Homo sapiens: one gene and its partner. The protein of the gene in region 1 interacts with the protein of each later gene in a biochemical or structural test. Each region holds a gene or a part of one and is shown in the gene's direction. Other genes may lie near its edges.

What was found.
Region 2: the proteins of KLF6 (region 1) and NUFIP1 form a complex in vitro, tested with the Homo sapiens proteins (one study listed by BioGRID).

What each region holds. Positions count from the first base shown.
Region 1 is NC_000010.11:3,775,245-3,782,247, reverse strand, and holds the end of KLF6 (Krueppel-like factor 6), read left to right. Parts: intron 1-33; coding exon 34-607; intron 608-2,018; coding exon 2,019-2,142; intron 2,143-2,657; coding exon 2,658-2,709; 3' UTR 2,710-6,252; downstream 6,253-7,003.
Region 2 is NC_000013.11:44,938,743-44,944,754, reverse strand, and holds the end of NUFIP1 (FMR1-interacting protein NUFIP1), read left to right. Parts: intron 1-1,080; coding exon 1,081-1,313; intron 1,314-3,432; coding exon 3,433-3,549; 3' UTR 3,550-5,506; downstream 5,507-6,012. UniProt on the Homo sapiens protein: Binds RNA.

The sequences.
Region 1 (7,003 bases):
AATCACGTGCCTTCTCTGGTTCATTTTGCACAGACCTGCCTAGAGCTGGAACGTTACCTCCAGAGCGAGCCCTGCTATGTTTCAGCCTCAGAAATCAAATTTGACAGCCAGGAAGATCTGTGGACCAAAATCATTCTGGCTCGGGAGAAAAAGGAGGAATCCGAACTGAAGATATCTTCCAGTCCTCCAGAGGACACTCTCATCAGCCCGAGCTTTTGTTACAACTTAGAGACCAACAGCCTGAACTCAGATGTCAGCAGCGAATCCTCTGACAGCTCCGAGGAACTTTCTCCCACGGCCAAGTTTACCTCCGACCCCATTGGCGAAGTTTTGGTCAGCTCGGGAAAATTGAGCTCCTCTGTCACCTCCACGCCTCCATCTTCTCCGGAACTGAGCAGGGAACCTTCTCAACTGTGGGGTTGCGTGCCCGGGGAGCTGCCCTCGCCAGGGAAGGTGCGCAGCGGGACTTCGGGGAAGCCAGGTGACAAGGGAAATGGCGATGCCTCCCCCGACGGCAGGAGGAGGGTGCACCGGTGCCACTTTAACGGCTGCAGGAAAGTTTACACCAAAAGCTCCCACTTGAAAGCACACCAGCGGACGCACACAGGTCAGTGCCCACGCGGGCCCCGGAGGGCGGCCGCTGGTGGGCGCCACTGCATTGCACCAGCCCTGGAGGGAGCCGGGCCTGGCTGCACAGGATGTGGTCAGGGCAGACAAATCCTCACTTCCTCAGATGTTTTCCACCAAAGCATTAGGTCTTTTTGGAGTTCAGAGTAGAATCCTAAAGACTGGACTTTTGAGTTGGATAAATGTGTAACAATTTTCAGATTAAACAAACAAGAGACTAGATCCTTTTCTCCACGGACACCCAAACCTCCACCCCCCACCCCTTAGTAGTGCTGGGGATCCGAGGCCACTGCCCCTTCACCAGTGCACTCGCACGAGGCTACCTCGAGCGGCCCTGGGGTTTCCTAAATGAAACTCAAGGGTCAGGACAGAGGGTTGCTGGGCAGCGTGGAGTGTGTGGGTTTGATGCTGACGGCCCGAGGCCCGAGTGGGACCGGCCTGCTCTGTAAGCAGCAGCATTGATCAGCGAGTGTTTCCTGAGAACTTCTCCGTGTCTCATGCAGCCTTTGTTTCTGATACCGCTTGAAACAGTTTCTTAATGAAATGCCATACCTAGGTGAAAGTGCTATTTAAAAATACCTTGACATGTTCTAGGATAATTGGTGAGGAATCACAGAACATTTAGAACTGGGAAGGGTCTTAGTGATCACGTGATGCAGGCTCTTCTCTTATCAGTAGGAGAGCAAATTGCTGAGAGTCAGTCCCAGACAGGCTTGGTGACAGCTGAGATTGAGATCCGGGTGGCCCAATATCCAGGCCCAGGCCTGTCTCAACATACCCTGAGATTGGCTTGACAACTTTGTTTTCTCAGGTAGCACTTGTAGTAAATTCATATTTATGATTTGACCAAGGAATGAAGTGAACCCAGTTGTTCAATTGCCATTTAGAGAATGATTCCGGGGCCCTGTACTGGGGCTTTCCAGAAGCTCGTAACTTCAGCTTTGTAGAAAGGTAGAACGTCCCTGAGGAAACTGCAGAGGCACATTCCATAGGGAAGTGAGGATGGAACAGAAGTGTGTTTGGGAGAAACAGTTGCCATGAAGAAAGCAATAGCTCTGCCTTTGCCGGGGCTGTGGGTCCGGCAGGCTGACACCTCATCCCGCAAGCATTTTGCTGGTCTGAGTCGTGGTCGTTCTTCCACGTTAACTTTGATGACAGCACCATGGGCTTGGCTGAAGCTGTGTCCCTTGGACAGCAGTGGGAGGCCTGAGACTGGGTCAGGAGAGAGCTGCTGTTGTCTCTCTGAGGCTGCCAGTTGTTGTGTGTTACCGATGCCAGAAGCCACTGGGTCCCTGGCCTTGCATCCCACCACTGTGTGTGTTGTTGAATTTCCCCTTTCCGTCTGCGGGTCAGTGAAGTCATGGGCTGCTTGTCCTGTGCTCTCTCCCCAGGAGAAAAGCCTTACAGATGCTCATGGGAAGGGTGTGAGTGGCGTTTTGCAAGAAGTGATGAGTTAACCAGGCACTTCCGAAAGCACACCGGGGCCAAGCCTTTTAAATGCTCCCACTGTGACAGGTACGTGCCTGAGGACAATGCTGGGCAAGGAGCGTGGGGCCTTGGGAATGTGATGACCAGGGTTGAGTAGGTGTGCAGGGCACATTCGAAGGAAGGCATGCAGTTTCCTATGTGTGAACATTTCTTTTCAAGCCTGGGACTTTTTAGAAAGTTTCTGGTGTGCTCATTGTCCATGGTTAGGAAGAACTGTTCCACATACACCTGACATTGGAGTCAGTTTATTGATATGTTTGGAGATTGGCCTTTCAACAGTTTTCATATTTGAAGAATTAGAAATGAAGTCCGTTCAGATTCTCCAAAGAACCTCCAGCCACTGGTGGGGGACATTCTTAATTCACATTCCTATCAGTTGGTATCTCCTGTCCCTGAAGACACTGATGAGGCTTGGGAGGAGAATCCCACCTTTCCCTGCAGGGGGTTAGGCTGGGCAGGGCAGGGAGGTGAGGGCGCTGGTCCAGAACACTGGCAAGGGATGGGAACCTAACTTCTTCTGTGCTTCTGATTTGCCCTTGCAGGTGTTTTTCCAGGTCTGACCACCTGGCCCTGCACATGAAGAGGCACCTCTGAGGGAGCAGAGAGGTGGATCCTGTAGGCTAAAAGGCTTCCAGGCTGAGAGCCGGCCGTGGAAGGAGGGATGCGTGTTCCAGCCAAAGCATGCCGTTCTGCACCCTACCCAGTTGCCTCCAGGGCCTCTCCTTGGAAGGTCTTTTGAGGGCTAAAAAGGTCCTGTAAGAAGCGGCATAGCACCCGTGGTGCATGGTATGTGGGTGACCCTGGACTCGCCACTGGTACCCGCCCTTCCGAGCGGCGCCTAAGCCTTTGCCGTGAGCATGCACACTGAGAATGCTAATGGTTGGGTTGATTGTATGTTGAGGATCTATTACTGACCGTATGATGAGGCCAACTTTTTTTCCTTGTGGTTAGCAAGACTGCAAGAGATGGAAAAAAAGTAGTTTGAATGTTTTGTGTGTAAGGAGTATACCATGAGATGAGATGACCACCAATCATTTCCTTGGGGGGAGGGGGTGTCTGCACCTTAGAAAAAAAAAGAAAAATCAAAAAAACAAAAAAACAAAAACAAAAAAAGAAGGAAAATCTTGGAGGGTGGGCGTGGGAACTCAGGACCCCAGAGTGGCGAGTGGTGTGGGGAGGGAGAGCCTCTCTCCCCCTTTTCTGTGTGAGAGGAACTCTTAGTGTCTGGTGCAGCTATTAAATGTGCAATGTGTCAAGTAGCTTGTTTTACACGCTACAACATAGCTCATTTGTAACCCATTGTATAAGCTGTGTATTTACAAATATAACACAACAATTTAACTTTTCCTTAGAATACAAAAAGTCATGCATGGTCTGGGGAACTATATGCTTTTCCATTTTTAAGTCAGGACTGCAATACTGATTCCAGTTAATGAGCAGCTAAGATCCAATCTGTCTAATACAGTGACCCCCTAGCCATCCGGGCCTGGCAATATACAATTTTTTTTCCCCTCCAAGTTTGTAACACTCCCCTTCCAGAAAGGCATTGTGCAACACAGGATTATTTTTAAATGATTCTGAATTTGAATTAACTTTTTGGAGAATTCTGTGATGCCCTTAGAAGAAATTGGACACGTATTGAGTGTCACAAAGCTGGGGCTGGGAATTGCTGGTCTAATGTTTCATTAGACTTAAGAACCTAAAATTTTTCTCAGTTGGGTGGATAAAACCACTAACGCTTAGAAACTGTTTTCTCATGCAGCTATGTTTCTCTTATTTATGCCTTGAGGACTAATTTCTGGTTTTCTAGCTGTTAATGCACTGTTGACCTTCATAATGGTGCCTTACGCAAGCGATCCCTTCTGTGGGGGTCTCATACAGGGGTGTGGGCGATGCATGCTTTATTAAGGCTCTTGTTTCACCTGGCAGTGTACTGTATCAACGTATAATACAGAAAAAAAATCTCTTTAAGGTCCTCCTTCACAAAGACATAGAGTGAAACTCCCTTTACATGTCAGTATTTGTTCAACACTTTAGGCAACTTGACTGTCAGTGTTAAAATGGAAAACAGGAAAATGGAAAAATCTGACCAATTCTGCCACCTTGAGACTTTCATATAGACCTTGCACAACAATTGTATAGATCACACACCGGCTGTATTTAATATGTAACATTTTCACACATATTAAAGATACAGAAGTATTAAAAAACCCCCAATGTTAATGTATTTGCTTAAAAGGCACAAGTTTCACATATCTGTCTAGCTATCTGTTGGTAATACAGAAAGTATACTACTTTTTTAAAAAAGTGGGCAGAATTCTTGTGTATGTATATTTGTGTGTACAGTATGTGTATGTGTGTATATATATATATTATATATATAGATAATATATAAATATTTTTTTTAAGGAGAAACTAGAATGTTTAGCTAGAAAATTCCACAGCCTGTGAAGAAATATTTCAAAATGGCCATAAAGGAGGTAAAAATGAAAACCATAACCTAACTTTTATAGAGGCTTTATCTTTAATTTAACGATGTGCGGAGGACTTTCTTGCTTGAATCTGTTCCGGGCTGTCTGCTCTGTCCATCAAATGGGCAGGTCTGGAATGGGGCACCTTCGGCCGTTCAGAAGTGGCCTGAACAGAATGCTGGAACCCAGGCTGGACTCGGACACACTAAGGTTTTGATTTTGAATTTCAGCCTTATTAGAAGATCTAACCTAAGAGTAAGCTAACCACAGGGATTCTTTTGTAGAACACTTTTTATGCAGATGAAGCTATTTTTTCCAGCAAGTAGATTCTTCCAGTTTTTCCAAGGAGTAATTTCCCCGAATTGGCATACCACGGCGTGGACAGCTGATATTTCACCCAGCTGCTGGCTTGTGGGTGTGGCTCTTTGCTTTATATATATATACACACATGTGAGTCTGGCTGGGCTGGTATTTTGTTTGATCTTCCTGGAAATGAGCAGTGACTAACGCTCACATAACTGGTTTTTTTTTTATCTGGGCTGATGAATACATTTACCTAAGAAACTCATTTCGTTTTACTTAAGAGGGGAAGTGCAGTTTTCTTTTGGCAGTTCAGAATCCAAGCACTTGATTTGCTGGGTTTGGAAAACTCCTTTTTTGGCCTTCTATGTGCTTAGCCATAACAATTCCATTAAGCAAGAAGGTAAGCAAAAGACAAAAAAAAAAAAAGGAAAAAAAAAAACTTGCACTGGCTTGTCTCACTTACGAAACATGTCGGAGCTGTTTGCCTGGGTGGGGCTGGGTACCGTACCTGTCAATGCCTGTGATTTTCATAATTAGCACGTACATAAAGAAGTACATTCTGTTCAGGTGATAACTGAGCCTCAATCAAGCAGAAACTTTTTGCTTGAAATTAAAAAAAAATTTCTATTAGTGAAATTTCTTTTTTTTTTTTTTTTGGAAGCACCCTGTTATCTAAAGAATCTTTGTAAGATTTTTGTAAAATTTTGTTTTACAAGATTTTATTTGAAATTGTTTTTTGCAAGATTGTTATATTTCTGTATGAATGTATTTTTTATTGGAATAACATAAAAGAATTCTTATCAGCATCTTGAGTCTGGTTGTTTTTTTTGGGGGAAGGGGGTTGTTGGAACAGATTCCTCCTGCATTCATCACCCTGGCTTCCTCCTGGGGGCAAATCTTCATTGAGCAACCCTGAGAACAACTCACCGACCTCAGCCCCTTCCTCTTTCCACAGCCTGTCCTGGGAGCTGGAGAGGATGTCAGCGAGCCTGACATTGCCCTCCCTGAATGCATCAAATACTCTTCTCCAAGGACTGACAAAAACAACCCCCCGGCTGTGGGCACAGTAGGGAACCATGCCGGTTTGATCTTCCATTGCTCAAGCCAGGGAATGCATTGCAGAGGCACCTGCACAACGACAAACTTGAGTGTTTCCCTGCCACTTCTGTGCCTCCACAGCCTGCTCCAGTTCCGCAGCTAGAGCTGGGCCTACCTTCCCCAGCCAGCCCTGCCACACACCTGGCTGAGGCATGTCTGGGAGGGGTGGAGGAGGCAGAGGGACTCCAGGCCAGAGGGCTGTTCTCACAACCTCAGCCCACTCTCAGTCAAGGAGGGCAGAAAATAAAAGATGACATCACTGCCAGAGGAGTTACATCTCTTTTTTTTCTTTTAAGGCCAATAAGATACATTAAATGTAGAGTTTGTTTGAAAATAGGCAGCCTTTTGTTTTTTAGAGCAATGTTTAGCAAGTAATCTCAGCTTTGCTTTACTGTGTGGACCAGGACAATTTGATCCTTGTAGGAGTCCATTTTCAGATTACACTAAGCCAATCAGTAGCAATGGGGTAAATCAATGTGTTTCCGTGGGAACCAGCTTCTTAGTGTGACAACAAGGATATTCTACTTGAGGTGGCTTAAGCGCTCACTCCTCTCCATAGCTCTTCATTTTGCTAAACGTGGGGAATTTACAGTGGTTGCTTTTAATTTTATAATTGGAGAGGGGATGGATGTTAAGATGTGTGCCCAGACTAGGAATGTTCATTAATTTTCTTTCTATAACTGTGGTAAAAATGTCAGCAGTTTGGAGGGAGCTGTGGTAGGGCAGGACGTGGGGAGCAGACGACATTATTGCCGGGATTCGTGGGCGTGTTCTATCCCCAAGCACATGTCAACATGACTCATGGTTGGATTGCCCCGAATGTACAGTCTAAATTTAAAGTCTTGATAGTCATTCGCGGCTACTATTAAGACTTGACCACTTTGTCATGGAAAGACTATGCAGGACAGCTAAGTTATGTTCAAATAAGGCTGTTAGCGCTGCCGTGCAAGGAATCGGCTGCAACCTTAGGGTATTTATAGAAGTATAAAAAATTTCAGTCTGCTTAACAAATTTTT
Region 2 (6,012 bases), on another chromosome or scaffold:
TAGTTTTCTGTTAATGATTTTAGTTTAATTCTGCTACAGTCAGAGAACATATCTCTATACTTTCAATTTCTTCAATTTATTGATACTTATTTTATGGCCCAACACAAGGTAAATGTTCATATGAACTTGACAAGAAAATGTATTAGGTCGGGTGTTCTTTGTCAATTTGAGTTAATCGTTAGTGATATTTTGTATCCCTACGAATTTTCTGTCCAATTTTTCTTTAATTACTGAGATTGGAACGTTCAATATTCAATCATAATAATGGATTTGTCTAATTCTCTTCTCAGTTCTATCAGTTTTCGCTGCAATGCATATTGAAAATCTGTTCTTAGGTGTTATTCTTTGTCTTATTGACGAATTGACCCCTTTAGCATTATGAACTGTTCCACTTCATCCCTGGTGATGTTCACTGTTCTGAAGTCTTTTTTGTCTGACATTAATACAGACTTTCGGCGTTCATGTGATTGGTATATGCTTGGTATCTTCTTTCATCCTTTTGACTTCTTTGTTTTACTTTTTAGGAGTTGGTCTGCAGTTTATAGTATGCAGCTTAACTTTTCATCGTGTACTTTCAAATGATATCTACTTCACATGTAATTTAAGATTTTACAGTGTATACTACTTACATATTCCTTCTGCCTTTTTACTATTGTTGTCAGAGATTTTATTTCTATAGATGTTATAAATTGCACATACACTTAATATTTTTGCTTTAGTTTTAAAATTTTGCCAATGAGGAAAAAAAGTCTTTTATATTTATTCACATATTTACTTTTTCCAGCACTTATCCTTCCTTTGTATAGATCCAAGTTTCCATCTGGCATTATTTCTTTCATAGAGATCACTTTCTGTAGCTCTTCATGGTAGTCTTCTCAATTTTTGGTAGTTACAGCTTCCAATTTGAAAAATACTAGAATACATTATAAATGCCTTGCAAAAATCTTTCATAGTTTTAAGTTATTAAGTGAACAATATTATGGCTAGGAGGATTATTATGGATTTGTTGGTTGCTTTTGAAAGGTCTACCTGTTTTGTTTTGTTTTGTTTATTTTTGTGTTTGTTTTTCATCACACTTAGAAACTCCCATCAAGACTGAAGCAGACGTTTTGGCAGAAAACCAGGTTCTTGATAGCAGTGCTCCTAAGAGTCCAAGTCAAGATGTTAAAGCAACTGTTAGAAATTTTTCAGAAGCCAAGAGTGAGAACCGAAAGAAAAGCTTTGAAAAAACAAACCCTAAGAGGAAAAAAGATTATCACAACTATCAAACGTTATTCGAACCAAGAACACACCATCCATATCTCTTGGAAATGGTAAATTATTTTTCTTTAGGTTCTAATCTTTGTGTTCTCACATCATAAAGATAGAGCCACTGGGGTGTGTGTGTGTGTGTGTGTGTGTGTTTGTTTTAAGGTTACCAGAGACACATTGACCTTGGAGACTTTGTATCTTAATTCTGTAGCTACATTTGGCATATAGCTGGTATATTCAGTGAATGTGGAATAATGTAATTTTTACAACCACTTAAAATAAATTTAGGTTTCACTAGTTGGTAAGGAAGTATCTACTGAGGTTTATTGACTTTCTTTTAAGTTTCCAGTGAAAGCACAGCTAAAAGTACAATGGCAAGCTGAAGGGAAAAAAAGATTTTTAGTACAAATGTCTATTGAGAACCATACAGTAACAAAAAGGAAAGGCCTAAGGTTTTCTGACAATTCTCATTTGTTATCTTCTGGGATTGTCTTCCTTCCCTCCCTCCTCCACCTATTTTTTTTTTTTTTTTTTTTAAGAGTTGAGGTCTTGCTTTGTCACCCAAGCTGGAGTGTAGTGGCGTGATCATAGCTCACTGTGGCCTCGAATTCCTGGGCTCAAGTGATCCTACTGCCCCAGCCTCCCAAGTAGCTGGGACTATGGGCATGCACTACCATGCTAATTTTTTTTCTTTGTACACCTTTATTTATTTGTGTTTATTCTGTGCATTCGTGGCTTTATTCTCAGCATTATGTGCTCAAAAATCTAATAGCTTTCTTCAAATTATAAAGAGGAAGCAATGCATCTTCAAGTTCTCAGTAGTGGACATGAAGCTGTTTGAAAATCAAAGATTTTCATGTCTAAGCAATAGAAGTATTTTACATTTTTTAGTGGAGTTATAAAACTTGACATTCTGTGAAAAGTCTGTTTGGTTTTGACTTACAAGTTAAGTACTTATTTTGTAGCTAAAGTGTTCAGTGGCTACACTCTTGAGGTGCTACATGTAGCACAGTTGCTTCCTATTAAAATGGATCTGAAATATACGCTCCATTTTGTATACATAGTAAATTACATTTTAAAAAGTTACCTTATAATTGGTAAATTAAGTGAGCTTTCCACTGAAAGTTTCTGTATGATGTTTCTGAACTCTATCAATAACACCAGAAAATAAAATAAATTCCTTTTTGGCAAACTACATGTGATTCCTTGATTATGTGCTTGTTCTAAATACCAGGGATTTCTAGCTTTCTTTTAATTACAATAAGCACAAAAATGGAAAGTTATAAAAGTCAAGGAATGTTGGAAGTTTTTACTGCTATTTTCATTGTTACATGTAAATAGATGTACTTACCAATTTCTAGACTGCTTATGAATTTGGGTTTGGGCAATCCTCTTTGACATAATTTTAGATTAAAGAATTGCAGACTTTTTAGCCGGGCATGGTGGAGCATGCCTGTAATCCCAGCTACTCGGGAGGCTGAGGCAGGATAATTGCTTGAACCCGGGAGGCGGAGGTTATGGTGAGCTGAGATCGCATGATTGCACTCCAGCCTAGGCAACAAGAGTGGAACTCTGTCTCAAAAAAAAAAGAATCGCAGACGTTTAAACCTATTTTCCTGTCCTATGCTAGATACTCTTAGAGAGGACTCCAAATATAAGCGTTAGTACTGTTTAAAAAGCTAGATTGTCTTGGCCGGGCATGGTGGCTCACGCCTGTAATCCCAGCACTTTGGGATGCCGAGGCGGGTGGATCACAAGGTCAGGAGATCGAGACCATCCTGGCTAACACGGTGAAACCCCGTTTCTACTAAAAATACAAAAAATTAGCCGGGCATGGTGGCGGGTGTCTGTAGTCCCAGCTACTCGGGAGGCTGAGGCAGGAGAATGGCGTGAACCCGGGAGGCGGAGCTTGCAGTGAGCTGAGATCCCGCCACTGCACTCCAGCCTGGGCAACAGAGCGAGACTCCGTCTCAAAATAAATAAATAAATAAAAAGCTAGATAGTCTTGATATAAATTAAAAGGACATGTTCTTGCATCGTTTTTTAGCAAAATAGTGAATATAATACATATTTCTTATTGTTCTGTCTTCTTTATATGGTGAGGGTACATGCAATATTTTAGATTGTATTTCCCAGATATAATTTATTTACTACCTCATCTTTTTTTAAATTGTGTTTTAGCTTCTAGCTCCGGACATTCGACATGAAAGAAATGTGATTTTGCAGTGTGTTCGGTACATCATCAAAAAAGACTTTTTTGGACTGGATACTAATTCTGCGAAAAGTAAAGATGTATAGGCATCTGGTGTTTCAGCATACATAACTGAAGCATGTGAAACAGTATCATCCTCGTTAGTAGAGGAAAACCAAAACCCTTTTTTCCGTCAAAATTGGATTTGTAATTAAATTGTAAGCCTCGTAGGATGTATGTTGGAATTTTAAGTCTTTCCTTTGGTTCTATGCAAATAAAAAAATAACTGATTTTTTAAGACTGTGTCTGTATTGTTGGGATTGAATCTAGTATTTGCTGGGAGAATTTTTTCTTTGTATTTATTTTAATGTATTGTTCTCATGTAAGAATGACTGATGTTGTGTTAGTTAAGAATTGAAGATAGGTTTAGCAGTAAAGAAGAAAGCTTTTAAAAGGATTGATTCAGCTAAGCAAAGTTGGGCAGAGAAATACAGCCATTTTGTTTTTAATGCAGAAAAGGAAGATGTTCTGTAGCAAGGGGGAATATTTTAAAAATAAACCAGATCAAATTAATACAATCAGAAGGTTTCGAAATGTAAATATTCCTTATTTAAGACATGTTTAAATTCACCTACTAGCACGACTTACATAGCTCAAATATTGAATGTTTAAAATATTAATACAGATGGGGCCTCTTTATGTTTAGATAAAATTGAAGTACTTAATTGAAGCTTTTTAAAAATTGTAAAGTAAATGAAAGCTATTGAGATCTTTTTGTCTCCTATAATACCAGGGAATTTGAGCTTGTGTTCTAGTCATTGTACTAGCTGTAGCTATTGGTCTGTCCTTTTGACATACAGCTAAAAGGGACTAAATTTGTAAAAAATTAGTTTGTTATAGTTGAAGATTAACTTTTCCTAACATTGTGATTATTGAAGTTCATGAATCTTGCTGTCAAGGAAGAAAGGTAAGAAAGCTGATAGCTCCTCCATGTTGGTAAAATCCTCTCCAGAATCTTGGAACACCTGGCATGTGACCCTAGTGACGTCACAGACCTGAGATGAAGATTCATGTTTAGCCAGTGTTTTCCAGCCTTGTACCCACCATACAGATCTGTTTATTCTGTTTCACCCTACTCCTCCAGTGAGCCCCATATTTTGGGAAATTATCTGCCTTATACATTAACTAATTCAATTCATGTAACACTGTTGAGTGCTTACTCTTTGTACCTCTATTGTGCCTATATTAAAGGTATACAAATAAATAAGGCCATGTCTGACTTCAAGGAACTCAGTTTAATTTTGATATATTCAAAGATGTGATTCCCAACCAACTCAGGATGAAGTAACTAGTGTTACAACTGAGTTGATATTCTAAAATATAACACAGTTTGTACTTTTATTACTAGTTAGCATACACATTTTATAGGCTTATGGGTTAATAAATGAATTCATGGACTCCTGGACTACTTTCATTGATGACCATATCTCCAGGGATGTTGTTGATCCCCACACTGCCTTAAGGTATATTATAGAAACAGTTTTATTTTCCATTTTTCTTGTTTCCTGATAATAAATGTATTTAGGACTGAAAATACTCCTGAGTACTCCCTTGGCTGTATGTCTGACAGTCTTTAGCTATGGTGACTATTGTTTATTTTTAATGGGTATTTCAGATTCCAAGTGTATTTAAAATTTCTAAGGAGATATAATATAGCCTGTATGGTTTCTACTTTATGGAATTATATGGTCAATATTTGTAAATATTCTATGAGTTTTGGGTGGGTAGAGGGGTGCTTTGCCTGTTTTGGGTACAGGTTTTTTTGGATTTAGCTTGTTAATTGTTCAAACTTTCTGCCTTCTACATTCCTATCTTATTGTTCGTTTAATCAGTTTCTGAAATGTAAGCATTACATGACTATTGGTGAGTTGTGCCTTTTATAACTGAAATACTTTACTTTTTCTCATATCCTCTATAATTGACTTCTATTTTCCTTAATCAAACCAGCTCTGGGAAATTTAATACATTTATATTAATTGAGATTATTAAAACATTTGGACTATTCCTGGCTGTCTTACTTTGTATTTTCTATATATCATGCTCTCTTGTTTTTATTTTGTCATCTTACTGGCTTGTTATTTTTTTCTCCTTGTTATTCCTCCAGTGGTTTGGAAGTAATTAAACCTATTGCTATTTCTTTAGTGATTACCTTTTTTCTTTAAGTTTAGAGTTAATTAGTAGCCACATCTTCCATCCATCTCCCAATTAAGTCAGTAACCTTAGCATTGTTTCACTTCCCCACCTCAGCCTCTTTTTGTGATGTAATCAGATACGATTTTAGTTTTAGATTAATCCCTGGGATCTTGGTGCGTATGTGTAAATAGTTATTAGGCCACTGTGAGTTTTACTGTTTTCTTCTGATTGCTTTCTCTTGCATCCCAGGATTAGTTTTCTGGTGTGCTGCTGCATATCTTCAAGTAATTAAATGTTGAATCTTCAATTTAAAGTTTTTTAAATTGAGTTATGGTTTTAGACTCAAAATCATTTTCCTTTGGAATTTTGAAGCTATA